Linked DNA regions of Homo sapiens. The protein of the gene in region 1 purifies or fractionates together with the protein of each later gene. This does not show direct contact. Each region holds a gene or a part of one and is shown in the gene's direction. Other genes may lie near its edges. The genes, in order: GOLGA4, SMYD2, LIMD1 and UTP4.

What was found.
Region 2: the proteins of GOLGA4 (region 1) and SMYD2 purify together in Homo sapiens (affinity purification with mass spectrometry; 3 studies listed by BioGRID and IntAct, with this or other methods). This does not show direct contact.
Region 3: the proteins of GOLGA4 (region 1) and LIMD1 purify together in Homo sapiens (affinity purification with mass spectrometry; 3 studies listed by BioGRID and IntAct, with this or other methods). This does not show direct contact.
Region 4: the proteins of GOLGA4 (region 1) and UTP4 purify together in Homo sapiens (affinity purification with mass spectrometry; 3 studies listed by BioGRID and IntAct, with this or other methods). This does not show direct contact.

Annotation. Positions count from the first base shown.
Region 1 is NC_000003.12:37,323,258-37,330,290, forward strand, and holds part of GOLGA4 (golgin subfamily A member 4), read left to right. Parts: intron 1-330; coding exon 331-4,568; intron 4,569-5,158; coding exon 5,159-5,280; intron 5,281-5,705; coding exon 5,706-5,836; intron 5,837-7,033. UniProt on the Homo sapiens protein: Involved in vesicular trafficking at the Golgi apparatus level. May play a role in delivery of transport vesicles containing GPI-linked proteins from the trans-Golgi network through its interaction with MACF1. Involved in endosome-to-Golgi trafficking.
Region 2 is NC_000001.11:214,333,149-214,337,654, forward strand, and holds the end of SMYD2 (N-lysine methyltransferase SMYD2), read left to right. Parts: intron 1-1,051; coding exon 1,052-1,160; intron 1,161-3,555; coding exon 3,556-3,636; 3' UTR 3,637-3,983; downstream 3,984-4,506. UniProt on the Homo sapiens protein: Protein-lysine N-methyltransferase that methylates both histones and non-histone proteins, including p53/TP53 and RB1. Specifically trimethylates histone H3 'Lys-4' (H3K4me3) in vivo. The activity requires interaction with HSP90alpha.
Region 3 is NC_000003.12:45,667,733-45,674,765, forward strand, and holds part of LIMD1 (LIM domain-containing protein 1), read left to right. Parts: intron 1-561; coding exon 562-624; intron 625-4,957; coding exon 4,958-5,088; intron 5,089-5,721; coding exon 5,722-5,773; intron 5,774-6,610; coding exon 6,611-6,679; intron 6,680-7,033. UniProt on the Homo sapiens protein: Adapter or scaffold protein which participates in the assembly of numerous protein complexes and is involved in several cellular processes such as cell fate determination, cytoskeletal organization, repression of gene transcription, cell-cell adhesion, cell differentiation, proliferation and migration.
Region 4 is NC_000016.10:69,135,628-69,142,660, forward strand, and holds part of UTP4 (U3 small nucleolar RNA-associated protein 4 homolog), read left to right. Parts: intron 1-1,068; coding exon 1,069-1,260; intron 1,261-2,173; coding exon 2,174-2,258; intron 2,259-4,197; coding exon 4,198-4,287; intron 4,288-6,515; exon of another isoform or gene 6,516-6,563; coding exon of another isoform or gene 6,564-6,672; intron 6,673-7,033. UniProt on the Homo sapiens protein: Ribosome biogenesis factor. Involved in nucleolar processing of pre-18S ribosomal RNA. Part of the small subunit (SSU) processome, first precursor of the small eukaryotic ribosomal subunit.

The DNA of each region.
Region 1 (7,033 bases):
CTGGGACTACAGCCGCATGCTACCATGCCCGGCTAATTTTTGTATGTTTTGGTAGAGACAGGGCTTTGCCATGTTGGTCAGGCTGGGTCTCAAACTCCCGGCTTCAAGTGATCTGCTCACCTCGGCCTCCCAAACTGTTGGACTGTGCCTTGCCATAATCTTTTCTTTGTTATATGATTCCTTTAGTAATTGAGCATAGATTCTTTGTCTTTTCTAGTGTTTGGTATGATAATTTTGATCTTCAGGTAGGTGGTAGACATCATGTCTGTGTATCATTGTTAGTAGACAAGTACGTACTTTAATAAAAATGCATCTGTTTTTAATTAACAGAGAATTCTTGAATTGGAAAGTTCTTTGGAAAAAAGCTTACAAGAAAACAAAAATCAGTCAAAAGATTTGGCTGTTCATCTGGAAGCTGAAAAAAATAAGCACAATAAGGAGATTACAGTCATGGTTGAAAAACACAAGACAGAATTGGAAAGCCTTAAGCATCAGCAGGATGCCCTTTGGACTGAAAAACTCCAAGTCTTAAAGCAACAATATCAGACTGAAATGGAAAAACTTAGGGAAAAGTGTGAACAAGAAAAAGAAACATTGTTGAAAGACAAAGAGATTATCTTCCAGGCCCACATAGAAGAAATGAATGAAAAGACTTTAGAAAAGCTTGATGTGAAGCAAACAGAACTAGAATCATTATCTTCTGAACTGTCAGAAGTATTAAAAGCCCGTCACAAACTAGAAGAGGAACTTTCTGTTCTGAAAGATCAAACAGATAAAATGAAGCAGGAATTAGAGGCCAAGATGGATGAACAGAAAAATCATCACCAGCAGCAAGTTGACAGTATCATTAAAGAACACGAGGTATCTATCCAGAGGACTGAGAAGGCATTAAAAGATCAAATTAATCAACTTGAGCTTCTCTTGAAGGAAAGGGACAAGCATTTGAAAGAGCATCAGGCTCATGTAGAAAATTTAGAGGCAGATATTAAAAGGTCTGAAGGGGAACTCCAGCAGGCATCTGCTAAGCTGGACGTTTTTCAGTCTTACCAGAGTGCCACACATGAGCAGACAAAAGCATATGAGGAACAGTTGGCCCAATTGCAGCAGAAGTTGTTGGATTTGGAAACAGAAAGAATTCTTCTTACCAAACAGGTTGCTGAAGTTGAAGCACAAAAGAAAGATGTTTGTACTGAGTTAGATGCTCACAAAATCCAGGTGCAGGACTTAATGCAGCAACTTGAAAAACAAAATAGTGAAATGGAGCAAAAAGTAAAATCTTTAACCCAAGTCTATGAGTCCAAACTTGAAGATGGTAACAAAGAACAGGAACAGACAAAGCAAATCTTGGTGGAAAAGGAAAATATGATTTTACAAATGAGAGAAGGACAGAAGAAAGAAATTGAGATACTCACACAGAAATTGTCAGCCAAGGAGGACAGTATTCATATTTTGAATGAGGAATATGAAACCAAATTTAAAAACCAAGAAAAAAAGATGGAAAAAGTTAAGCAGAAAGCAAAGGAGATGCAAGAAACGTTAAAGAAAAAATTACTGGATCAGGAAGCCAAACTTAAGAAAGAGCTTGAAAATACTGCTCTAGAGCTTAGTCAGAAAGAAAAACAGTTTAATGCCAAAATGCTGGAAATGGCACAGGCTAACTCAGCTGGAATCAGTGATGCAGTGTCAAGACTGGAAACAAACCAAAAAGAACAAATAGAAAGTCTTACTGAGGTTCATCGACGAGAACTCAATGATGTCATATCAATCTGGGAAAAGAAACTTAATCAGCAAGCTGAAGAACTTCAGGAAATACATGAAATCCAATTACAGGAAAAAGAACAAGAGGTAGCAGAACTGAAACAAAAGATCCTCCTATTTGGGTGTGAAAAAGAAGAGATGAACAAGGAAATAACATGGCTGAAGGAAGAAGGTGTTAAGCAGGATACAACATTAAATGAATTACAGGAACAGTTAAAGCAGAAGTCTGCCCATGTGAATTCTCTTGCACAAGATGAAACTAAACTGAAAGCTCATCTTGAAAAGCTAGAGGTTGACTTGAATAAGTCTCTGAAGGAAAATACTTTTCTTCAAGAGCAGCTAGTTGAACTGAAGATGCTGGCAGAAGAAGATAAGCGGAAGGTTTCTGAGTTGACTAGCAAGTTGAAAACCACAGATGAAGAATTCCAGAGTTTGAAATCTTCACATGAAAAAAGTAACAAAAGCCTAGAGGACAAGAGCTTGGAATTTAAAAAACTGTCTGAGGAACTAGCGATTCAGCTAGATATTTGCTGTAAGAAAACCGAAGCCTTATTAGAAGCTAAAACAAATGAGCTAATCAACATTAGTAGTAGTAAAACTAATGCCATTCTTTCTAGGATTTCTCATTGTCAGCACCGTACAACTAAAGTTAAGGAGGCACTGTTAATTAAAACTTGCACAGTTTCTGAATTAGAAGCACAACTTAGACAGTTGACAGAGGAGCAAAATACACTAAATATTTCTTTTCAACAGGCTACTCATCAGTTAGAAGAAAAAGAAAATCAAATTAAGAGCATGAAGGCTGATATTGAAAGTCTTGTAACAGAAAAAGAAGCCTTACAGAAGGAAGGAGGCAATCAGCAACAGGCTGCTTCTGAAAAGGAGTCTTGTATAACACAGTTGAAGAAAGAGTTATCTGAAAACATCAATGCTGTCACATTGATGAAAGAAGAGCTTAAAGAAAAAAAAGTTGAGATTAGCAGTCTTAGTAAACAACTAACTGATTTGAATGTTCAGCTTCAAAATAGCATCAGCCTATCCGAAAAAGAAGCAGCCATTTCATCACTAAGAAAGCAGTATGATGAAGAAAAATGTGAATTGCTGGATCAGGTGCAAGATTTATCTTTTAAAGTTGACACTCTGAGTAAAGAGAAAATTTCTGCTCTTGAGCAGGTAGATGACTGGTCCAATAAATTCTCAGAATGGAAGAAGAAAGCACAGTCAAGATTTACACAGCATCAAAACACTGTTAAAGAATTGCAGATCCAGCTTGAGTTAAAATCAAAGGAAGCTTATGAAAAGGATGAGCAGATAAATTTATTGAAGGAAGAGCTTGATCAGCAAAATAAAAGATTTGATTGTTTAAAGGGTGAAATGGAAGACGACAAGAGCAAGATGGAGAAAAAGGAGTCTAATTTAGAAACAGAGTTAAAGTCTCAAACAGCAAGAATTATGGAATTAGAGGACCATATTACCCAGAAAACTATTGAAATAGAGTCCTTAAATGAAGTTCTTAAAAATTACAATCAACAAAAGGATATTGAACACAAAGAATTGGTTCAGAAACTTCAACATTTTCAAGAGTTAGGAGAAGAAAAGGACAACAGGGTTAAAGAAGCTGAAGAAAAAATCTTAACACTTGAAAACCAAGTTTATTCCATGAAAGCTGAACTTGAAACTAAGAAGAAAGAATTAGAACATGTGAATTTAAGTGTGAAAAGCAAAGAGGAGGAGTTAAAGGCATTGGAAGATAGGCTTGAGTCAGAAAGTGCTGCAAAATTAGCAGAGTTGAAGAGAAAAGCTGAACAAAAAATTGCTGCCATTAAGAAGCAGTTGTTATCTCAAATGGAAGAGAAAGAAGAACAGTATAAAAAAGGTACAGAAAGCCATTTGAGTGAGCTAAATACAAAATTGCAGGAAAGAGAAAGGGAAGTTCACATCTTGGAAGAAAAACTTAAGTCAGTGGAAAGTTCACAGTCAGAAACATTAATTGTACCCAGATCAGCAAAAAATGTGGCAGCATATACTGAACAAGAAGAAGCAGATTCCCAAGGCTGTGTGCAGAAGACATATGAAGAAAAAATCAGTGTTTTACAAAGAAACTTAACTGAAAAAGAAAAGCTATTGCAGAGGGTAGGGCAGGAAAAAGAAGAGACAGTTTCTTCTCATTTTGAAATGCGATGCCAATACCAGGAGCGCTTAATAAAGCTAGAACATGCTGAGGCAAAGCAACATGAAGATCAAAGTATGATAGGTCATCTTCAAGAGGAGCTTGAAGAAAAAAACAAGAAATATTCCTTGATAGTAGCCCAGCATGTGGAAAAAGAAGGAGGTAAAAATAACATACAGGCAAAGCAAAACTTGGAAAATGTGTTTGACGACGTCCAGAAAACCCTCCAGGAGAAGGAACTAACCTGTCAGATTTTGGAGCAAAAGATAAAAGAGCTGGATTCCTGCTTAGTAAGACAGAAAGAAGTACATAGAGTTGAAATGGAAGAGTTGACCTCAAAATATGAAAAATTACAGGCTTTACAACAGATGGATGGAAGAAATAAACCCACAGAACTTTTGGAAGAAAACACTGAAGAAAAGTCCAAATCACATTTGGTCCAACCCAAATTGCTTAGTAACATGGAAGCCCAGCACAATGATCTGGAGTTTAAATTAGCCGGGGCAGAACGGGAGAAACAGAAACTGGGCAAGGAGATTGTTAGATTGCAGAAAGACCTTCGAATGTTGAGAAAGGAGCATCAGCAAGAATTGGAAATACTAAAGAAAGAATATGATCAAGAAAGGGAAGAGAAAATCAAGTAAGTTTTATTTCAGCTTGAATATTTTTATGGCAGTCCTTCTTAATTAAGTCTCCTTTTTTTGTGCCTAATACAGTTATTTTAAATTATTTGGATAAGTTTCACCAACCCAAAATATTAAACATAAATCCAATATGTTAAATATGAGGAGAAATAAAAACAATTTAGGGCAAGTGGCAGTGTTATTCCATGTCCATTTAGGAGAGAAAAACCTTTTCTTGCATATAAGATTCTGGTTATTAGGGACATATCCAAGTAATTATTTTCTTTTTGTTTTGTTGTTTTTAGTATTAGCATTATTATTATATAACATAGATGTGTTTTGAAAAAAAAATTAAAGTGGAAAACAAAAATTCTCTGGTCCCCAGGACCACTACTTAGAGGTAATCATAGTTGATATGTACCTGGACACACACACACACACACACACACACACACACACACTCACTCTCACACTCTCTCTCTCTCTCTCTCTCAAAAATGTTTTCATACAATGAACTCATACTGTATGCACTGTTTTAAAGACCAGGTAGCTCCTTGCAGCTTGTTCTTTGTGTGGCAGCAGTTAACGGTACATTTTTATTACTCAGACAGGAGCAGGAAGATCTTGAACTGAAGCACAATTCCACATTAAAACAGCTGATGAGGGAGTTTAATACACAGCTGGCACAAAAGGAACAAGAGCTGGAAATGACCATAAAAGAAACTATCAGTAAGTAAAATTAAGTTCCATAAGGAACAATTATATCAGCAGAGGCTATAATTTAAGCTTATCATTTTTGCAGTGGTGGTAAGTGCATTAAGTCATTAAACTGGGGAAGAAATAATCCTTGCCCAATAACATTCTCTAATGGGAACCTGCCCTGCTTGGCAATGACTTACCTTAAGGAGAGAGGGAGCAGGTAAAACAATCTGAAAGTATTAGCTAATTAATTACCTTGTAAAGACACTTTTGCTCAGGGAGAGGATACATTTGATCACTGTTGAGCTAGATGTCTCATTAAACATCTTAAAATGCTTATATAAAATTAAATTTCATCAAAATTAATTGGAATGAGAGTTGTTACTGAAATTGAGATACAAATATTAACTCTTGACTAATGTGTTTTCTTGTGTGTGTTCATTTTTATTTATTAGATAAGGCCCAGGAGGTGGAGGCTGAACTTTTAGAAAGCCATCAAGAAGAGACAAATCAGTTACTTAAAAAAATTGCTGAGAAAGATGATGATCTAAAACGAACAGCCAAAAGATATGAAGAAATCCTTGATGTTTGTACCTTATTTCTTCTCTCTCACTTTTGAAATTTAGCTGTAATAGATTTCATGGTAGTGCCAAAGATTTCCTTTTCAAATGTGTTTTTTGAACGAAAAGGGTTTTTTTTTTTGACTCAATATTATTCAAATTAGTACTGTTATATGCAGATTTATAAAGTTGAGTTGATTTCTGCCAGGATTGTAGTTTCCTGATGAGATTCTGCTAACTAGGCAGCACAGTCCCCTTGCTAGTATTGAAGCAACAGTAGATACTAAAAGGAAGAATAGATTCTTTCCCATCTGCCTCACAGATTCTGACTGAACTGTGAGGGGAACCAGACTAAGAATCAAGACCCTGTGCTTCGGTGAAGTCTAAGTAATGGGATAGTGAGTGTGTATTTAAATGTGGCTGCTTAACTTAGCTGGAATCTTTCTGGGAGGGACAATCAACTTTACTCTTATCTCTACCCAGTGTGTGGAGGTTGATTGGTCTCAAGAGAAGAAAGCTGGGAAAAAATGGAATGCATAAGCCAAATCTTTTATATTTAGTGGAAGGTTATTTCAAAATACTTACTCTACTAATGCCATGTTGCAATTCACAGAATATGCCACTAATGCATTGCCATTAGCAAAATAAGATAAGCCATGAAGATACACCATGAAGATAAATCATAAATGCTAGTTAGTACTTTGGACTAACATTTGAAAATGTTTTCAAATGTAATACAATATAAATTGTTCTTGGTTGGGTTACAGATTCTGTAGTTGCTCTAAGCCTTATTTCACTATATGCTAAGAATCTTTTGGTGATTAAGAATTCATAAATCAAAGAATCATACCTCAGCTGACTATGTCAGCAGAAGTCTGAGTCGGGAACAGATTCTAATAATTATTTTAAATGTAATTGAAATGGCTAGAATTCCAAGATATAACACATGCCTATAAATGCCACCTTTTATAATTCTTGAGCTTTATATGTCATTATGAAAAGATTTAAATAATTTCACATTTTCTTATACTTCCATAGAGGATATATGTGCTAAATGAAAAAAAAAAAGTATTATTTCTTGAATGCCTAGAGAGTGTTGGAAGATACAGTAAAGCTAGTTTAGTTCTACTTTTTTTTTTTCTGTTTTTGTTTTTCAGAAGGAAAAGCCAGTTCAGTGTAGTTAAGTAATTTCCCTAAAACTACATAGTGGTAGAGCAGTGATT
Region 2 (4,506 bases), on another chromosome or scaffold:
GCTCTTGGAAACAGAATTTGTTAAATTGGGGATAAACTCAAACCTTCCTTTTCTCCTAGAGTGTGTGAGGAAGTGCACTGGCCTCATGCGCAGTTCTCTGTGTGAGATCTGTAGGGAGAGAGGAGCAGACAGACAGCATCCCAGCCCTGTGGTTCTCCCAGCAGGGCCTTGCTCTGCTAGACCCATCTTTATCTGCGTGAGCCCCTCCCGGAAGCCCAGCTCTGGTCTTCTGTGGGGCCGTGGGTCCCAGGGCTGCCTCCTACCCAGGAATACAGCTAGAACATGTCTTTTTGGACTGACTTTCAGGAGACACAGGGTGGAACAGCCTAGCCTTTAAATAAACACCTCTTACACACATGTAAACACACACACTGGCTCACCCACCAGCTGCCTCTGGGCCCTGTTCTTAGGGAAATGGCTGTTTCCCAGGCAGACCCCATCAGTCAGTCTTCAGGTACAGCCGGAGAGAACACTTGCTGTATCTAAAGCCCCTGCTGGACAATGGGGAAAGAACATCCAGAAGACACAGGAAGTGTTCTGACTTCAGAGCACTTAACTGTTTTGCTAAACCAACCCATATCATAGTGTGACAGAAAGCTGGGGTCTTAAGACACATTGGGGTGGGTGGGGGTTGGGTGGGTGGCTGTATGTCTGAGTACCTAAGGTGATAGGCCTAATTGCTGCCTTCATAAATGGGACATTTACTTCACAAGCTGTTTTCCCAGGGTCTTCCTCTGGGTATGTCTGAAATATAAAAATCTGGACTGGGATTGAAGATTGTGTTTACAAATGCTTTTGAATAGGATTTCTCCTGCAGTTGTTACGTAGCTTTTCAGAAACACACAAACTACAAATAATGAACAACATCTGCAATGATTCGGCAGGGTGGCAGCATCCACGCTCTCCACCCAAACCCTGGTGGGATTTGGAGAGGCCGCTGGTGGGCAGAGGTTGGCCCTAAGCATGGCAGCCTCCGGCTTACTGCACCCAGCCTGTGGGGCGGCTCAGTAGCCGCTGACATGGTGGCCTGTTGTCTCTTCTCTTGTTCTAGTAAGCACTATCCTTTGTACTCCCTCAACGTGGCCTCCATGTGGTTGAAGCTAGGGAGACTCTACATGGGCCTGGAACACAAAGCCGCAGGGGAGAAAGCCCTGAAGAAGGTATGTCTGTAACTCGGCCTTAGGATTCCCAGTGGCCAGATGGCCTCCTTAGCGCACCTCCTTCATGCCTCACCAGGCTGAATGGCTGAAGCAGTGGAGGGTGAGCAGCTCTCACCCACCCTCTTGCCGTGGGAGCAGCGGGGGTGGGTCCTGCAGGTGAGGGGGGAGTGAGAGAGTGCACCTCTGCTGTGTTTGTGTCCAGGCCTCCCTCAAAGGGAATGGGTGCCCACATCCAGAGGGCTGGCCGTGATCACAGGCCCAGCCTGTGCCTGGAGGAATTCTCCATTTGTTTGACCTTTGGGATTTTCAGAATGATGATCCCCAGTTGTGAAATCAAGGAGGTAGGATATGGAGAGTTAGGGTTAGGATGTTAGAATTGCGCATTTGCTGTTTCTAAAATGCACTTAATCATCCTCTCAGTTCATTGAGGACCAGTTACATACCAAGACCCTCGTGTGCTTTTCCTTTGAATTCTCACAAAACCGAGAGGCTTTCCTGATGAAGAAAGTGAGGTTCAAGCAGGTTTAAGTGAGTAATAGCCTAGGGTACATGGTGGGGCCTTCATTCAAATGAGGGTCTAAATTGAAAGCTTCGGCTCCTCCCACTCAAGCTGTGATGAAACTGGTGGGGAGCCAGAACCCTGGGCAGCATTCGCCTTTGGTTTGATGGCGGCCCTGTGCTGCCCAGGAGCCAGGCCCCGACCCTCACATCATGGGAGGTCAGAGTCATCATCCTGAGTATTGATTCTCATTGTTTGTGATGTGGAATTCACAGTCAATACAGTGTAATTTAGGGGATAGTCCATTTACTCCTGTAAGAAACTTTATAAAATGCTGGGGCCATGGACAGGGCCTGCAGGCCTAATCTTTCACCTTCTCCAAAGTTTCCCAATAGACTATTTGCGAAGATGGAATAAGGCCCACATCCCAAATAGAAGGGTCAGGGCACAGCCAGGCTGGAAGGGAGCACAGAACAAAATTTTCTGTTTTAAACCATGGAATTTGTCTTCTGAGAATTAGCCATTTGGGTCACAACTGCAAAGTGTGTCAGGTGATTAAGTAATAGATCAATGAAAGCTGGAGCAGATCTGAGCAAGGAACATGAGTCTTGAAATGAATGCCTGGGCAGAGTCGGCACCTGGAACAGGTGATTTCCGAAGGCTTGCACTGTTACTTGGCCTGCCTCCTCTTGGCTTGAGATCTAGGAGGAGAATATATAATAGATAGGAATGCCTGTCATAGTCACAGGCCATTAAAAATTCTCTGGGGGAATACTTTTTTCTCTGAGTAATTTGGCTGAATACAAAAGAGCAAATACATTCTTAGAGATGACATTTGATATAAACTTCCTGTATGCCAGGCGCTGTTCGAAACACTGTATCTGAATTAACAACCCTGAGAGGTAGGTATTATTCCAGTTTTACAGTTCAGGAAAATGAGGCACAGAGTGGTTAAGTAAATTACCCAAGGCCACACAGCTAGGAAATGATTAAACCACTGGAAACTTGACCATGTTACATTGCCTCACTATAAAGAAACCTTAAGTACATTCTCTAGCATCCCTCAATGAAACCTGCTACCTTTCTTTTAAGTTTTTAGAATATGTATTAAAAGGAAAGAGTATGCTTTTCGAAAGGGAAAAATAGTTTAGCTACGTCTTGCAGGTTAGTAATGTCAACTAAAAATCAAAATAGCTTTGATATAAAATTCACTATGGACTTTACCAGCATCACCTATTTTCTGGGTTGAACATAATCAAAAAAATTAGTCCTTAAAGCATGTTTTACTGAAAGATCTAGAATCTTGGGGCAAGAGAATGTCATGAAATCAGTTTCATGACATCGTTTCTCCAGCTGGATATTTTTGCAGAATGTTTTACCTAGCAGTAGACACTGGATGAGTTAGCTACCAGATGGTCTTCTCCTTTTTTAAAAAAAAACCAAGGCCAGGCACGGTGGCTCATGCCTGTAATCCCAGCACTTTGAGAGGCCAAGGCGGGCGGATCACGAGGTCAGGAGATCGAGACCATCCTGGCTAACACAGTGAAACCCCGTGTCTACTAAAAATACAAAAAATTAGCCAGGCATGGTGGTGGGCGCCTGTGGTCCCAGCTACTCGGGAAGCTGAGGCAGGAGAATGGCGTGAACCCGGGATGCGGAGCTTGCAGTGAGCGGAGATCGCACCACTGCACTCCAGCCTGGGCGACAGAGCGAGACTCCGTCTCAAAATAAATAAATAAATTAAAATAAAAACAGGTCCTGGTGGAGAACATAGGCTCTAATGGCCAGTTTGCATCCTGTGCCTTAAAGCAGAGAGATCCAACTTAAAGTTACCCTGGGTGGAGGTGTGAGGAGATTGGCTTCTAGGCTCTCATTGTTTGTCTTGCTTTTTCCTAGGCCATTGCAATCATGGAAGTAGCTCACGGCAAAGATCATCCATATATTTCTGAGATCAAACAGGAAATTGAAAGCCACTGAAACTATGCAGCATTTCAGTTTTCATTTAAACACTTAGTTCAGAAACCTTAAAGGATTTGAATATTTCAAATTGCACACGTCACTCCAGCATCTCTGTAAAATAATTGGAATGAAAATACTTCTTGCACTTAAACACTGCACATGCCGTACTTTGAGGTTAGTCTGAATCTTGAACTTTAATACCAAATTAATTTTGAATGCTTTTGTTTCCTAAGAGATAATGGCATGGTTTCATATGTTATACTTTGGACAGACAGAGTTTTAAAAATGGAATTATTTTTTCTTTCATGCCTCTTGTAATGTTCTGAACAAACTTGAATGATGAAAGTATTAAAGAGATATCAGTATTTGAGGTTTGTATTTTCTTCTGTCTCTGGGGAGGATTTCTCAGTGGTGGTGGGAGCCCAGTCTTGGAGTGAAAGTGACACCTGCTGTCCATAATTCAGCAAGCTCAAGTCTTCTCCATGGGACTGGGGTCGGGCAGCCTCTTTATTCTGCAGTTGCTCTTGTGGGGCTGTGCCTGTGGAGGAAGAAAATGGGAAGAAAGAGAAAAAGGTACACGAAGGAAAGAAAACTATCATCTATCTGTGGTGGAGGAACAGTCCAGTGACCCAAGTGCCCTCCAGCAGGCGAGGTTTTGAATCTGTTCTCTGGTGCCTGGTATTCCTTCAGTGTGTAAAGGTGCTTAGTGCGTGCTTTGCTTTCTTGGCTTTTCTGTCCCCATCTGTCTGAAAGCAGACTTGCCATCTCTCATTCTGTTGATTGTTCTGTGCAGTACTCTCCTTTTTGGAAAAACTCCAGGGTATGCTTGGGAAGGAAAAAAATGTTTTTCCTTACCAACCAACGCTGTGTTGTTGAGTAAACACTGAT
Region 3 (7,033 bases), 8.3 Mb from region 1:
TTGGCTGTGTGACCTTGAAAAGTTCACTTAACCTCTCTGAGCTGCCCTCTGCTTCTATTTGAGGATTCTGGGTAATAATGTAGACCTTGCAGAATTGTTGTAAGCATTAGAGTGATGGTTTCAGAATCCCCTGAAAGGCTTGTGAAAACACAGATTGCCAGAACCCACCCCCTGAGTTTCCAAATCAGTAGGTCTGGAGTGGAGCCCAAGGATTTGCATTTTTTACAAGCTTTCAAGTGATGCCAGGGAACTGCTCTTTGAGAACCACTGAGATGGGATTAAAGCATCTCTATATACAGTCCCTTACATAGAGCCTGGCATGCTGTGGGTGCCCAGACACAGTCATTGTTAGAGTGAGTGGTACTAGTATTTGTGATGGCTTTCGTGGCAGAGAATATTCTATGACTCAGCCCACAGCTGTGTTGTACTTGGGGATGACAGAATTCTGCACAGAGTGACACATCTTTCTGAGAAATTCCTTATAATCCTCTTGGCTGTTGGGGAAGTGGCTGATTCATCTTACCAGTCTGGGTTTAACTTTCTTTTCTTTTTCTTCTGCAGTACTCTGGTTTCCAGCAGTCGGCTGACAGGTGTTTTCTTTGTGGACATCTGATCATGGACATGGTGAGTAGGTCAGCCAAAGAAGAGAACAGCATCTCAGGTGGAGGAGGAGGTGTTCAGAGAAAAAAGAAATTAATAATTGAGGACAGTGTTTCTTATCTTGATTTGTGGTTACAGCTGGGCGCAGTGGCTCATGCCTGTAATCCCAGCACTTTGGGAGGCCGAGGCGGGCGGATCACGAGGTCAGGAGTTTGAGACCAACCAGCCTGGCCAATATGGTGAAACCTTGTCTCTACTAAAAATACAAAAATTTTCCGGGCGTGGTGGTGCATGCCTGTAGTCCCAGCTACTTGAGAGGCCAAGGCAGGAGAATTGTTTGAACCCTGGAGGCGGAGTTTGCAGTGAGCCAAGATCACGCCACTGCACTCCAGCCTGGGCAACAGAGTGAGACTCCACCTCAAAAAAAAAAAAAAAGTCCCTGTAAAGTACAGCTTGCTTGTTCTAATAGAACCCACATTGTTGGCTTTTATTGGAATTAACATCTTTAACCATCTAGAGCACACGCTATCATGTTTCCGATAATGCTTTCTCCTCCTCTGGGCTGTTTGAATCGCACTGGCCTCCCTCTGGCTTCTCTGTGATCCTTGTGGCATCCCAGGTGAGATGCTAAATACAGTCTGTTTTTACTGCAGAAATCTCAGCTACCTTGGAGTCAAATGCAGAAAGCCAGAGGAGCAAAGTTGTTTTTCTCCCTGTGTTATGCCCAGCTCACACCATTACGAAGATGAGTTTTTAGGGCCTGTCATTTAGTTCTGAGACAGCAGAGCAAGGACCAGGTTTTATACATTCCATTCTTTGCTCAGTCACTGGCTCTCTGAGGTTATTTTGGGCTTCAGGTCTTCAGTGGGGACAATTTTTCCCTAGAGGGTTAGGTTATGAGGTTAATGAATACAACATCAAATTGTTCACCATTGGAAACCAGCCTTTAAGAAGTTCTTTAATATACTGATCAGAGGAAATGATTATATAACATACTTTAAGTTGGAAACAGTTAAGTCCCTCTCTAAGCTGACTCATTAATTTCATTCTAGAGAAGATAATTTCTAATTATTAGTATTTTTAATTTTACCTTTTTATTGAGAAATAACTCATAGAGTAAAAGATACTAATCTTAAGTGTACATCTGAACGAGTTTTCACATGTGCATATACCCCTGTAACCACCACCCAGATCAAGATATAGAACACTTCCCAAACTCCAGAAAGTTCCTTCTTGTCTATTCCCACTCAAGACCCCACTCCCACAAAGGCAACCATTATTCCAACTTCTATTGCCAGAAATTCATTTTGCTGGTTTTGGAACTTCATATAAATAGAAACATATAGTATAGACTCTTTCAGGTCTTATTACATATGTTTTTGAGCTTCATCCATGCTGTTACCTGTATTGGTAGTTTATTGATTTGTATTGCTAAGTGGAATTCCATTGTATGGATATAGCACAATTTATTTCTCCATCTCATGTTGATGGGGATTTGGTGGTTTCTAGTTTTTTGCTATTTATGCATGAAGCTGCTGTGAATACTCTTGAACATGTCTTTGATGGACATAAACACTCATTTCTGCTGGTTATATGCTAATATTTATAAAACATCAGTGACCCACAGCCCTCCCCATTCGTGATGAATATCTGCTATCTCCCAGGCTTTGACAGACCTCAGCAGAGGTCTTAGCCCTATTAGAGCCATGTCCTCATTAGTAGCCAAGACCTCCCTGGGAAACGTGGCCCTTCCCCCATGCTCGCAGTGGGAGGTAGGCAGAAGCTACATATGCTTACCTCTCCTTCCCAGGTATCTTCTAGACTCTGTAGGGCTCTATTTCTTTAGCAGAATTTGCCTTTGTTTTTAGTGTCCTTCTGACAAACCTACTTCATATGAAGTCAACATGCTCTGAATTTATGAGTATGATTATACCCTATTCTTAGTTCTAGTAATCCTAAGACTTCTTTGGATAACCTCAGGGTATGTCATTTATCTATTGCTGCATGACAAACCACCCTAAAACTTTGTAGTTTAAAACAATAGTGATTTCTTATTTATCATCATGCTTCATGCTGTGGGTCAGGATTTAGGTCAGGGTTTAGCAGGCCAATTCTTCTGCTCTGTGTGGCATTGGCTGGGGTCTCCTACTTAACTTTGTTCAGCTGGTAGCACAGTTGAACTGGAACATCCAAGATGACCTCTCACCCTCCAGGCCCCTCTCCCTGTAGCCTCTAATCATTCAGTAGTCTAGTTCAGACTTCCTTACAGCAAGAGATAGGAAGTGGAAGCTACCAGTCTTCTTAAGCCTTTGACTCAGAAATCTCAGAACATTGTTTCTTCTGCTTTCTGTTAATTAAAGAAAGTCACAAAGCCAGTTCTGATTCAAGGGGAGGGGGAAATAGTCCCCATCTCTTGATGTGAGATCTCTACCATATGGGATAGTATGAAGTTGAAGCTTCAGTCTTTCAGGTCTTCCCTAGGACTTGAAAACTTTTAGTGAATGTCTAGACAGAACCCCAGCTGTCTAACTCTTTGTGTAAATTGTCTCTCTATATACCCTTTTGTTAATAGAGGGGTACATTCTGGGCTTGCAGGTTAGAACCAGGCATAGTCTCACATAAAAAAAGTATTACAGCTAGTCACAATGCAGCAAAATGGCATCTTTTTCTAATCTTACTTTAGGCACAATGTGGATTAAATTAATTTAAGGATCTCTTTCTGCCAAGACAGCATTCATCTTGGGGAAAATGCATTCCAAGGTCCAAATTGCCAAATGGGTTTTGGAAGCCCAGCCAGTTGTTCTTCCTGTTTTGCCTTACTGCAGATTGAGAGGGCCCTCAAAGGTTAGGGAAACCCAAGAGGGAATGAGGAAGCTTGAAAGCTGAGCATTCAGAGGAAAGCTGGAATAGCACAACGCCCTCCTCTTGCCTTCTTGGCTGGAGCTTGTGCAGTGTGGAGTTATCCGCCTGAGGCTTCCAGGGGAAGGAGCTGTAACACAGCATATCTTTACCCCTGGGTCTCACAGTGTACTGACAAGGCTTCCCCAAATCCAAAATCCCCTTTCTTCAGCCTGTTTGAAGGCTTTCTGTGTGGGCTCCCACTGCTGGATGCTGATGACCGTTCTGTACATTCTTTGCAGATGCATGTTTTGGTGTGACCTTGCTCATGTTGATTCTGTAGTTCAGTTGTTTTTGCTAAGTTTCATGATGCAGGTAATTGCAGAAATGAATCTCCTATTAAGTCAGTGAAGATGCTTTCAACTGCAAATTATAGAAAAAACCCAGACTCAGTTCGAGTTAAACCAATGATCCTCCAACTTTAATATATATCAGAATCACCCTATTAAAATACCAACTGCTGGGCCTTACCCCCAGAGTTTCTGATTCAAGAAATCTGGGATGGGGTCCAAGAATGTGCATTATTAACAAGTTTGCAGGTGATGCTAATGCTGAAGGTCTGGGGCCACACACATTTCGAGGACCACTGACTTCATAGGAATGATATTTTATCTCACCTAAAAAGAGGCTTGGAGGTATGTGGTTCCATGATGAGTTAATTCAGTTACTTACGGACCTCACCAAGGATGTTCTTTCCATCTCTTCTCTTTCCTGCTGTCCATGTCTTGGGTCTGTCCTGGTTTCAGGTTGGCTCTGGCAGTTCCAGGTATCCCATCCAGATCCAGATTAAATGACACTGAGAGGAAGAAGTTTGTGGGGCTTTCCCTCTATTGCGTTTAAAAACAACAACAGAGAAACTTTACTTATTACACTTGGATTTGAGGTCATTGGGTTGAGTCAGAACTTCTAGATTATCATGCTCCAGAGTCAAAGCTGCATAGAAGGGGCATCCAAGAGGCAGAAGTGAAGGGGTTCCTTTTGAGCTCTGCCATTTCCACATGGAATTTCTTTTCATTTTTCCGAGTACTTGCTGCTTCCCAAATCTGGGAAGGATGTATCCTTCTGTGGCCCTGCTTTGCATCGTTTCCCACTTCTTCGTGGTGGATTTTGGCCCTGGGATTGGCCCATCCCTTCCTTACCATCTCTTTCTCTTAAAGAACTATGCAAGAGTTTCCTGTTCTGGGTGAGGGTTGGAAAGGAGCCCTCTTTCCCTGCCAGCTCAGAGACCCTGTGAGAGGCTGCAGGAGAAGGATTCCTGTGTGGTCTCTTCTGTGTATTCATCTAAACAGATTTGCCTTTCCCACCCCATCACCTCTTGCTCTTCTCCTAGGTGAAACTCGGGGGTAAGTGTACTCTGTGTGTGACTGCTCATGTAATCCTTAGGCCTGATGTGTTCCTCTCCCCTTCCACCATCTCATCCTTCCCTATAATCCCCACTGAGTCTTGGTCTCTGCTCCAGATCCTGCAAGCCCTGGGGAAGTCCTACCACCCCGGCTGTTTCCGCTGTGTCATCTGTAATGAGTGTTTGGATGGGGTGCCCTTCACCGTGGACTCAGAGAACAAGATCTACTGTGTCCGAGATTACCACAAGTAAGAAGGGATGGGAGCAGACAGGACCCATTCGTGTAGGCCAAGCTGATCTCAGCAGAGTGAGTGGTGGAAACCGACAAAACTGTGTTTGCCAGCCGCCCTTAGATCACAGTCCAGCAAAGGCTTAATGGTTTTGAGGGGTACAGCAGGGACCTTGGGAGGTTGGTCGATGCCAGTGTTGACAGGAATGGGTTAAAGAATCATGTTTAGTGAAAAAAAAAAAACAACAGAGCACAGAAAAACTAATAATCATATTTGTAGCTAGGCCTCGGGAGGAATCCACCAAGCCCTGTGGCTTCAGCGTTACCTAACTTCACAAGGCCCCTATGCAGTGCTGGTTCCTACCACTCTTGGTTTGCCTGGGCCTGTGCTAGGCACCATGAGAGGTGTAAACAAATCAGTTAGTGCTGTCCCCAGAAGAGTGAGAGGCAGCCAGTGTCCTCATTGCAGCTGGGGAGCAAATACTAAGGCATATTCCACAAAGTGAGCCAGGTACCAGTCATTCTATGAGGGAGGAGAGCAAGGGGCAGGAGGCGGCATGGAGGAAGGCTCCATGTGGATTCCAAGTGCAAGTCTGACTCTGGAATTTGCTCCCAGAAGCAACATTTATTGCTGCTTTGTTTCTCCCCACAGGGTGCTGGCCCCCAAGTGTGCAGCCTGTGGGCTTCCCATCCTTCCACCTGAGGTAAGATGCCCTTCCAGACATGCTCCCAGGGGCTTCTAAGACATGAATATCTCCCTGGGCTCATTTACAAGATCCATGTCCTGTCCTTACAGCTTTTAAGGTATCCTTTTAAAAATCTCAACTCTGGCCTGGTGCAGTGGCTCACGCCTGTAATCCCACCCCTTTTAGGAGGCCCAGGCAGGAAAATTGCTTGAGGCCTGGAGTTTAAGAACAGCCTGGGCAACATAGCAAGACCTCATCTCTACAAAAAATTGTTAAAAATTGGCCAAGTGTGGTGGCATGTGCCTGTAGTCCTAGCTGCTTGAGCCCAAGAGTTTGAGGCTGCAGCGAGCTATGATGGTGCTACTGCATTCCAGCAGGTGACAGCAAGACCTTGTCTCCAAAAAAAAAAAACCAAAAAAAACCCCACTTCACCTTTGAGATAAGTCGTGTCTTCACCCTTCCTTGTTGACTGGCTTCCCCAACCCAGTACCCTTCTTGTGCTGATTTGTCCCCATAACCAGGTCAAACTCCCTTACTTGATACTAATTCTTAGATTAGCAGATGAGGAGAAAGGCTTGTCTTTTCTTCATTTTTTAAAATAAGTGTCCATGTAGGTCTTTCTTTCAGTGTTAACTCTGACATTCTAGAAGGAAGGACTCCTATCCCTCCTACTTCCCCTCTCATCAGCTTAAATGTATTCTTCTTCCAGTAAGTACTCCTGATTTACCTTCTCCTCCCAAGGCCACCTACTTGTTACCCCCAAAACCCTCTTCCCTCCCCACCCCACGGTACATCAAGCCCGACAGCCCCCCTAACAGGCCTCTCCTATGTGTTCTTGCTTTTCTCTGGTCCCAGGGCTCAGATGAGACCATCCGTGTCGTGTCCATGGACAGAGACTACCACGTGGAGTGTTACCACTGCGAGGTAGACCCCTCCCCACCCAGCCCCCAAAGCCCATTGTAGACATCCAAGAGAAAAGCATCCTGCGTTGACTGGGGCAAGAGGCAGTCAACAAGATTCTGGCAAGGGTCAGCCCTCTAGAGCTTCTGTAGGAAATGGAATGAAGGCTGGTTCTTGGGGGAGGTAGGAGAAGATGGAAATGCTCAAGGTATAAAGGTCTTTCTTCTGCATATTCAGAACTATCAAGTCCTGCAACTGTTGGAGCTGCTCTCCCTGAAGCTGCAGAGCTAGGAGGGTCGTGGAGAGCATGGGTTTCAGGTCCTATCTGCGGGCCACATTGTCAGGCAGGTGTGCGATTTGGGGAAGGGACTCCCTCCC
Region 4 (7,033 bases), on another chromosome or scaffold:
ATCGCTTGAGCTCAGGAGGTTGAGGCTACATTGAGCCAAGATCGTGCCACTGCACTCCAGTCTGGGTGACAAAATGAGACCCTGTGTCAAAAAAAATAAATAAATAAAAGTGGGCCTGATGCGGTGGCTCACTCATGGCTGTAATCCCAGCAGTTTGGGAGGCCAAGGTGGGCAGATCACCTGAGGTCGGGAATTCGAGACCAGCCTGACCAACATGGAGAAACCCCGTCTCTACTAAAAATACAAAAAAAAATAGCGGGACGTGGTGGCACATGCCTGTAATCCCAGCTACTCAGGATGCTAAGGCAGGGGAATCGCTTGAACCCGGGAGTCGGAGGTTGCAGTGAGCTGAGATGGCGCCATTGCACTGCAGCCTGGGCAATAAGAGCGAAACTCTGTCTCCAAAAAACAAAAAAGTGAAAGAATATGAGCATATGAGCTAGGAGTAAGGAGACCTTCATTTGCCTCATGCAATTGACTTTGGCACTTTTGGCAACCTACTTAACCCATGTATATCTTGGCCTTTTCAAGTTGAAATAGGAAAAATTATACCTACTTAGTTCCTTTTTCGTCAAGCAGGTCTAAGCATAAAATGCCTTGATAGCTACGAAAACTTTTGGGTTGGGTGCAGTGGCTCACGCCTATAATCCCAGGACTTTGGGAGGCCAAGGCTCACTGCAGCCTCCGCCTCCCAGGCTCAAACAATCCTCCCCCGTCAGCCTCCGTAGTAGCTGGGACTATAAGTGTGTGCCACCACACCCGGCTACTTTTTATATTTTTTGTAGAGACAGTGTCTCACTCTGTCGTCCAGGCTGGAATGCAGTTCAAACCTTTTCTGCTGAAAATGTTTTGCCGAACTAGTCCTAGTAAAAGAAACAAATTTAACTGTATAAAAGTAATTAGAATTTGAGCTGAAAAAATGAAAATGTCATTAGGCATGATCTGATAGCACAAAACCCCACACTAGTTATTTATGGGGAAGTTGTTTTTACCATGTTGCCTGTGACCACTCAGTACCGGTACCTGATGAATTTGTGGTAATGTTGAGAAGTTATGGTGTTTCTGCAGTTTTTCCCAGGTCATGAGTCTCGGGCTACAGAAGCTTTGTGCTGGGCAGAAGGACAGCGACTCTTTAGTGCTGGGCTCAATGGCGAGATTATGGAGTATGATTTACAGGCGTTAAACATCAAGTATGCTATGGATGCCTTTGGAGGACCTATTTGGAGCATGGCTGCCAGCCCCAGTGGCTCTCAACTTTTGGTTAGTAAGCAACTATTGGTAATTCAAACCAAAATTTCTCTCGTGCCTGCTCAGACTTTCTTCCCTGTGCTCATAGGAGAGTAACGATATATTATGGCATGTGGCAACCCCAACTATAAGATTGGAATTGATAGTGAAGATTTTAAAAATCCCCAGCATTCTTTTTGCTACTAGTCTGGACCTTGTTGATTCATTTATGAAATGAGAGGATTACATCAGTTCAACATTTCCCAAACTGTGTTCTGTGGAATTTGGAGATGTAGAGGTTTTTTTGTTTTGGTTTGTTTTGTGTTTTATGGTAAATTTCATTTCACAAATACAGCATATTTAATCCTGCTGTAAATTCACAATGCACATCGGTACATGAAGAGTTCTGAGAGTCCCTTCAGCAAGTTAACCTGTGCACTTGTGTTTCAGCCCAGTGTTTCTCAAAAATATGACCACACACTGAGCCCCTTCCCATAATTACCATTAGAGTGGGTGCTTCCAGATCTTTAATTCTGTGATGAGTCTGATTATTTTTGATCTGCACTAATTTGCACGATATCTGAAGGTGTTTCCATTTAGGTTATAATGTTAGTAGGTCTTTTATTTAGGCCAAGGGTCTCTAGCAGAAGTATTCTATGAAATCCTACTTCTAATCCATGTCATACAGAGGAATGGGGCCACTAATTAGAACTCTTAATATCAGTCTGTTTTCTGTCTAGGATATGAAGGCTACTGAGAATACACTATTAGTTTCTTGATAACTAGTACTTTCTCTCACAAATGATTTTTCTTTTTCACGGCAACTGATAGCTTTAAGGAGGAAGAGAGAATAGAGAGAGTGTGTGTTGGGGGGTGTGTGTGTGTGTTTAGTCCTATAAAATGTTTACTATTGATTTTTTCTGTTTACTACCTCTTTCTCAAATAGGTTGGTTGTGAAGATGGATCTGTGAAACTATTTCAAATTACCCCAGACAAAATCCAGTTTGAAAGAAATTTTGATCGGCAGAAAAGTAAGCGTCATTTTTCATGGGGCGGTAAATAGCCTTAACAAGAAATTAAGTTTCTGTGCCACTGGGGATGGGATATTTTCCCATGAATCCAGGTAATATTTTATCTCTACTGGGTACAGGGAGGGTATGTGCTAGAAGCCATCCCCAGCCCAGGCTTTACCCATTGTATAGCATAGTTGTGACTGCTTGGTTAAGTAATAATATAGAAAACCAGAAATCCAAAATTGGAAAGCTAGTGTTTCTGTGGAAGTCAATTTGTTAGTTATCACTTACTTTTGTGATGTTTTAACAAGCGTACATGAAGTCTTGAACTACAATTTTGTCATTAGGAACTATGGTTCTTTTCTTTCTTTTTTTTTTTTTTTCTGGAGGCAGAGTGTCACTCTGTCATCCATGCTGGCAGTGGCGGTGGCATGATCTCGGCTCACTGTAATCTCCGCCTCCCGGCTTCAAGTGATTCTGGTGCCTCAGCCTCCCAAGTGACTGGGATTCCAGGCACGTGCCATCGTGCCCTGCTAATTTTCGTATTTTTAGTAGAGACAGGATTTCACCATGTTGGCCAGGCTGGTCTCGAACTCTTGGTCTTACTCAAGTGATCCACCTGCCTTGGCCTCAAGTGCTGGGATTACAGGCCTGAGCCACTTGCCCTGGCCAAGGAACTGTGGTTCTTAATCCTTCTGGTGCATTCAAGTTGAATGAGGGAGTTTATAAACAGTTGCCCATCCTTGGGCTCCACCTGGGCTGAATTGGCATTGACCCTTTAGAACAGGGGTTGGCAGACTGTTTCTGTAAAGGACCAGATAGTAAACATTTTAGGCTTTGCCAAACCTACATTGTCTGCCAACTCTGTCAGTGTAGTGCAAAAGCAGCCATAGACGATACTGAAACTAATGGGCAGGCTGTGCTCCAGTAAAAACTTTATTTACAAAAACAAGCAGTGGGCCTGATTTGGCCTGTGGGCCACAGTTTGGTGACCCATCTTCTAGAATAGCAAATGTCCTCTGTGTCCATTAGTAATACTTATCCTCTGCTAATCAGATTCTTGCTTCGTTTTTAATATATCTTGGGTGCTCTTTTTTTTTTTTTTTTTTTTTTTTTCCTGAGATGGAGTCTTGCTTTGTCGCCCAGGCTGAAGTGCTGTGGCGTGATTTTGGCTCAATGTAACCTCTGCCTCCTGGGTTCAAGCAATTCTCCTGCCTCAGCCTCCCTAGTAGCTGGGACTACAGGTGCGTGCCACCATGCCCGGCTAGTTTTTGTGTTTTTAGTAGAGACGGGGTTTCACCATGTTGGCCAGGCTGGTCTTGACCTCCTGACCTCGTGATCCACCCACCTCGGCCTCCTGAAGTGGTGGGATTACAGACATGAGCAACTGCACCCGGCCTGGGTGTTCTTTCTCAATTACAAAGGTAATACAATGCTTTTTAAAAATCTCATACATTTTGTCAAGTATGAAATAGAAAATAGGTGTCTCAGCTGGGCACGATGGCTTACACCTGTAATCCCAGTACTTTGGGAGGCTGAGGCGGGTGGATCACTTGAGGTCAGGAGTTCGAAACCAGCGTGGCCAACATGGTGAAACCCCATCTCCACTAAAAATACAAAAATTAGCCAGACATGGTGGCAGGTGCCTGTAATCTCAGCTACTAGGGAGGCTGAGGCAGGAGAATCACTTGAACCTGGGAGGCGGAGGTTGCAGTGAGCCGAGATCCCACTGCGGCACTCCAGCCTGGGCGACAGAGGAGACTCCGTCTCAAAAATAAATAAATAAATAAATAAATAAATAAATAAATAAATAAATAAAATGGTGCTTCAAGGAGTACTATAGATGAGAGAGCTAAGATTGTAGAACACTCTAGAGATAGTTGTGGGAAGAGAGCTCAGTTACTCTTCGTATATTTATGTGTATGTCACTTTCTTTTTTTGTTGTCCAACTCCCAAGGTCGCATCCTGAGTCTCAGCTGGCATCCCTCTGGTACCCACATTGCAGCTGGTTCCATAGACTACATTAGTGTGTTTGATGTCAAATCAGGTGATTGTTTTTTTCAGTTCATTTGGGGTGTGGGTTTTGTCAGATTCACATTTCTGAGTTTTCAAAAGCTTGAGCCTTTGTCATGGTTTCATGACCTTTATGGCCTAACATGTCATTAATCTTCTGAGATGTCCACAATTAATTTTACTCCTTTCTTGGATTACTACCACTGCTTTTAGGGGAATCTTGGATCTTCAGTAAGATATAGTATTTTTCATTCATCGTAATAAGAATTCACAATAAAATACTCTGAACTAGTACATTCGTGTACTATAAACAGTAGAATTACCTATTTATAGATCCCAGTCCTTGGTAAAAATGGGCTTCTGTCATTGAGGAACATAAGATTTTTGTAGCATAATTGGTGAAACATGAGATCAGAAAAGCAGAGAACCATGATATTTTCTGTTCTTGGCCTGGAAAATTGGCTTCATAGAATCCTTCATTGATAGGGTTGATCTCAACTTGTTAGGTGGACATGTCTGTATTTCCGTCTGAGATGCAGAGATAAAACAGGTTGGCTGGGCGCGGTGGCTCATGCCTGTAATCCCAGCACTTTGGGAGGCCGAGGTGGGTGGATCACCTGAGGTCGGGAGTTCAAGACCAGCCTGACCAACATGGAGAAACCCTGTCTCTACTAAAAATACAAAATTAGCCGGGGTGGTGGTGCATGCCTGTATTCCCATCAACTCAGGAAGCTGAGGCAGGAGAATCGCCCCATTGCACTCCAGCCTGACAACAAGAGTGAAACTGCGTCTCAAAAAAAAAAAATCCCTTAAGCTTATTACAAAAAAGAGGGAGTCCTTCTATATCTCTCTCACTCTCCTCGAGGCAACCACTTGTGACCCTTAGCTGATTCTTTTGGTATCTATCACTGCAGATCCTAGCATGCTTTTTATGCTACATTTTGATTTTTCAGCTTTAGACCATTTTTTACTGACTTCTGCAACTTGCCCCTCTTTTTCTACCGTCTGCCACAGGCATCCACACTTCCTCCCGATCCTCCCAGTATGGTTATATTATAACTTTGTTCAAATTAGTAATTGATGTTTTCATTATTATGACTATGTATATACTACTCACATAGTAAATTTTCTTTCTTTTCCGGTATACTTATTGTTTAATAGTGTCTCTGTCTCTCTGTCTTACTGATACATTCCCACATTTTTCCAGTTGCATAAATTAGGTTCAAGTCCATCTGATTTTCTTTCTCCACTTTTATCTTTGTGAATAAGTCCCTCCCGGTGCCTTCTGACCCACTCCCATCTGGCTTAGCCACTCTGGGCCTGCTGCACAGCTGTGAGATCTGAAACTCTGATTGATTTTTCCATTGTTCTCGGGATCTCCTTTGCTTCTCTATCGGATAGGATCTCCCATTTCTGTGTTATTCACTTTCTTGGTTTACCCTTTGGTGGATCCTGAGTAAGAGTGCATGAGAAAGAATTCTAGGTTGGAAATTCTTTTCCCTTAGAATTCTGAAGCCCTGGCTCCGCTGTCTTCCAGCTCCTCGTATTATTAGCAAGTAAGCTGCCATTCTGAGAGTTATCCCTTTGTGTAGGACCTGTTTTATTTTTTTTTCCCCCAGGAGCTTTTAGGATGTTTTATCCTTACTGTTATGAAATGTAATAATTAGGTTTCTTGGTATGTGGATCAATTAATTGTTCTGGACACCTGGTAGGTTCTTCTAATCCAATACCCACGTCCTTCAGTTCTGGGGGGAAATTCTTTTACTCTTATTTTTCATTTCTTTGTCTTTTTACTATGCTTTCTGGGAGAGTTTGTCTTTTTTATCTTTGAATCCTCTATTGAGTTTTTCATTTTTGACATTTCCAGAGTTCTTTTTTTTCGTGAATCTTCTTTTTTACAGCATTCTCTTTATGTTTCATTATACAGAAACTCTTCTCTTTCTTTTTTTATTTTATTTTATTTTATTATTATTATACTTTAAGTTTTAGGGTACATGTGCACAATGTGCAGGTTAGTTACATATGTATACATGTGCCATGCTGGTGTGCTGCACCCATTAACTCGTCATTTAGCGTTAGGTATATCTCCTAATGCTATCCCTCCCCCCTCCCCTCACCCCGAAACTCTTCTCTAAGGCTATTAATAATTGTCAAGTGTTTTTCACTCTGCCTGTTTCTTCCCTGTTATTCATTTATTTGTTTCTGTTAGTCCGTTTGGCCTCTGCCTTTCATGTTAAAGGCTTTCCTCATGTCTGGTGATCATCTCATCACTGCATCATGTGGCTTACTGAGCTTGGGTTTCACTGAAGAATGATCTGGCTGGACTGCTTATTTGGGGTAGCCCTGAAGCCAGAATCTTCAGATCTTTTCTTTTGTGTCAGTTATGTTCCTCAGAAATGGTTTTTCATTCTCCTGCCTGGTGAGTATTGGCCTGGCTATCAGCATTCTAAGGGGAAAAAAAAGAATGGTGTTCTCAACATTCAGTGAGAAATGTTCACTTAATCCTGGTTTTCATATACTGCTTCTGCCTGATAGCCCTCCTCAGACAACGTCTCCAGTATTCTGCTGACGTGCATTTTGGGAGCTTCCCACCTTCTTAGTCAGGGCATGGCTATCTGAGGGGTCTACCAGCTGTTAACGGATCCCTCTTTGAAGCCCCACTTACTCCTTTTCTAGAATATCTGGGGTCCCCAATTCCTGAGTCCAAGGATTCCATAGTATAAATCAGGTGGCTTCTTGGCTTTCCTCTCTGCCGACCTGGGACTTAGTTTCAGGGCTCT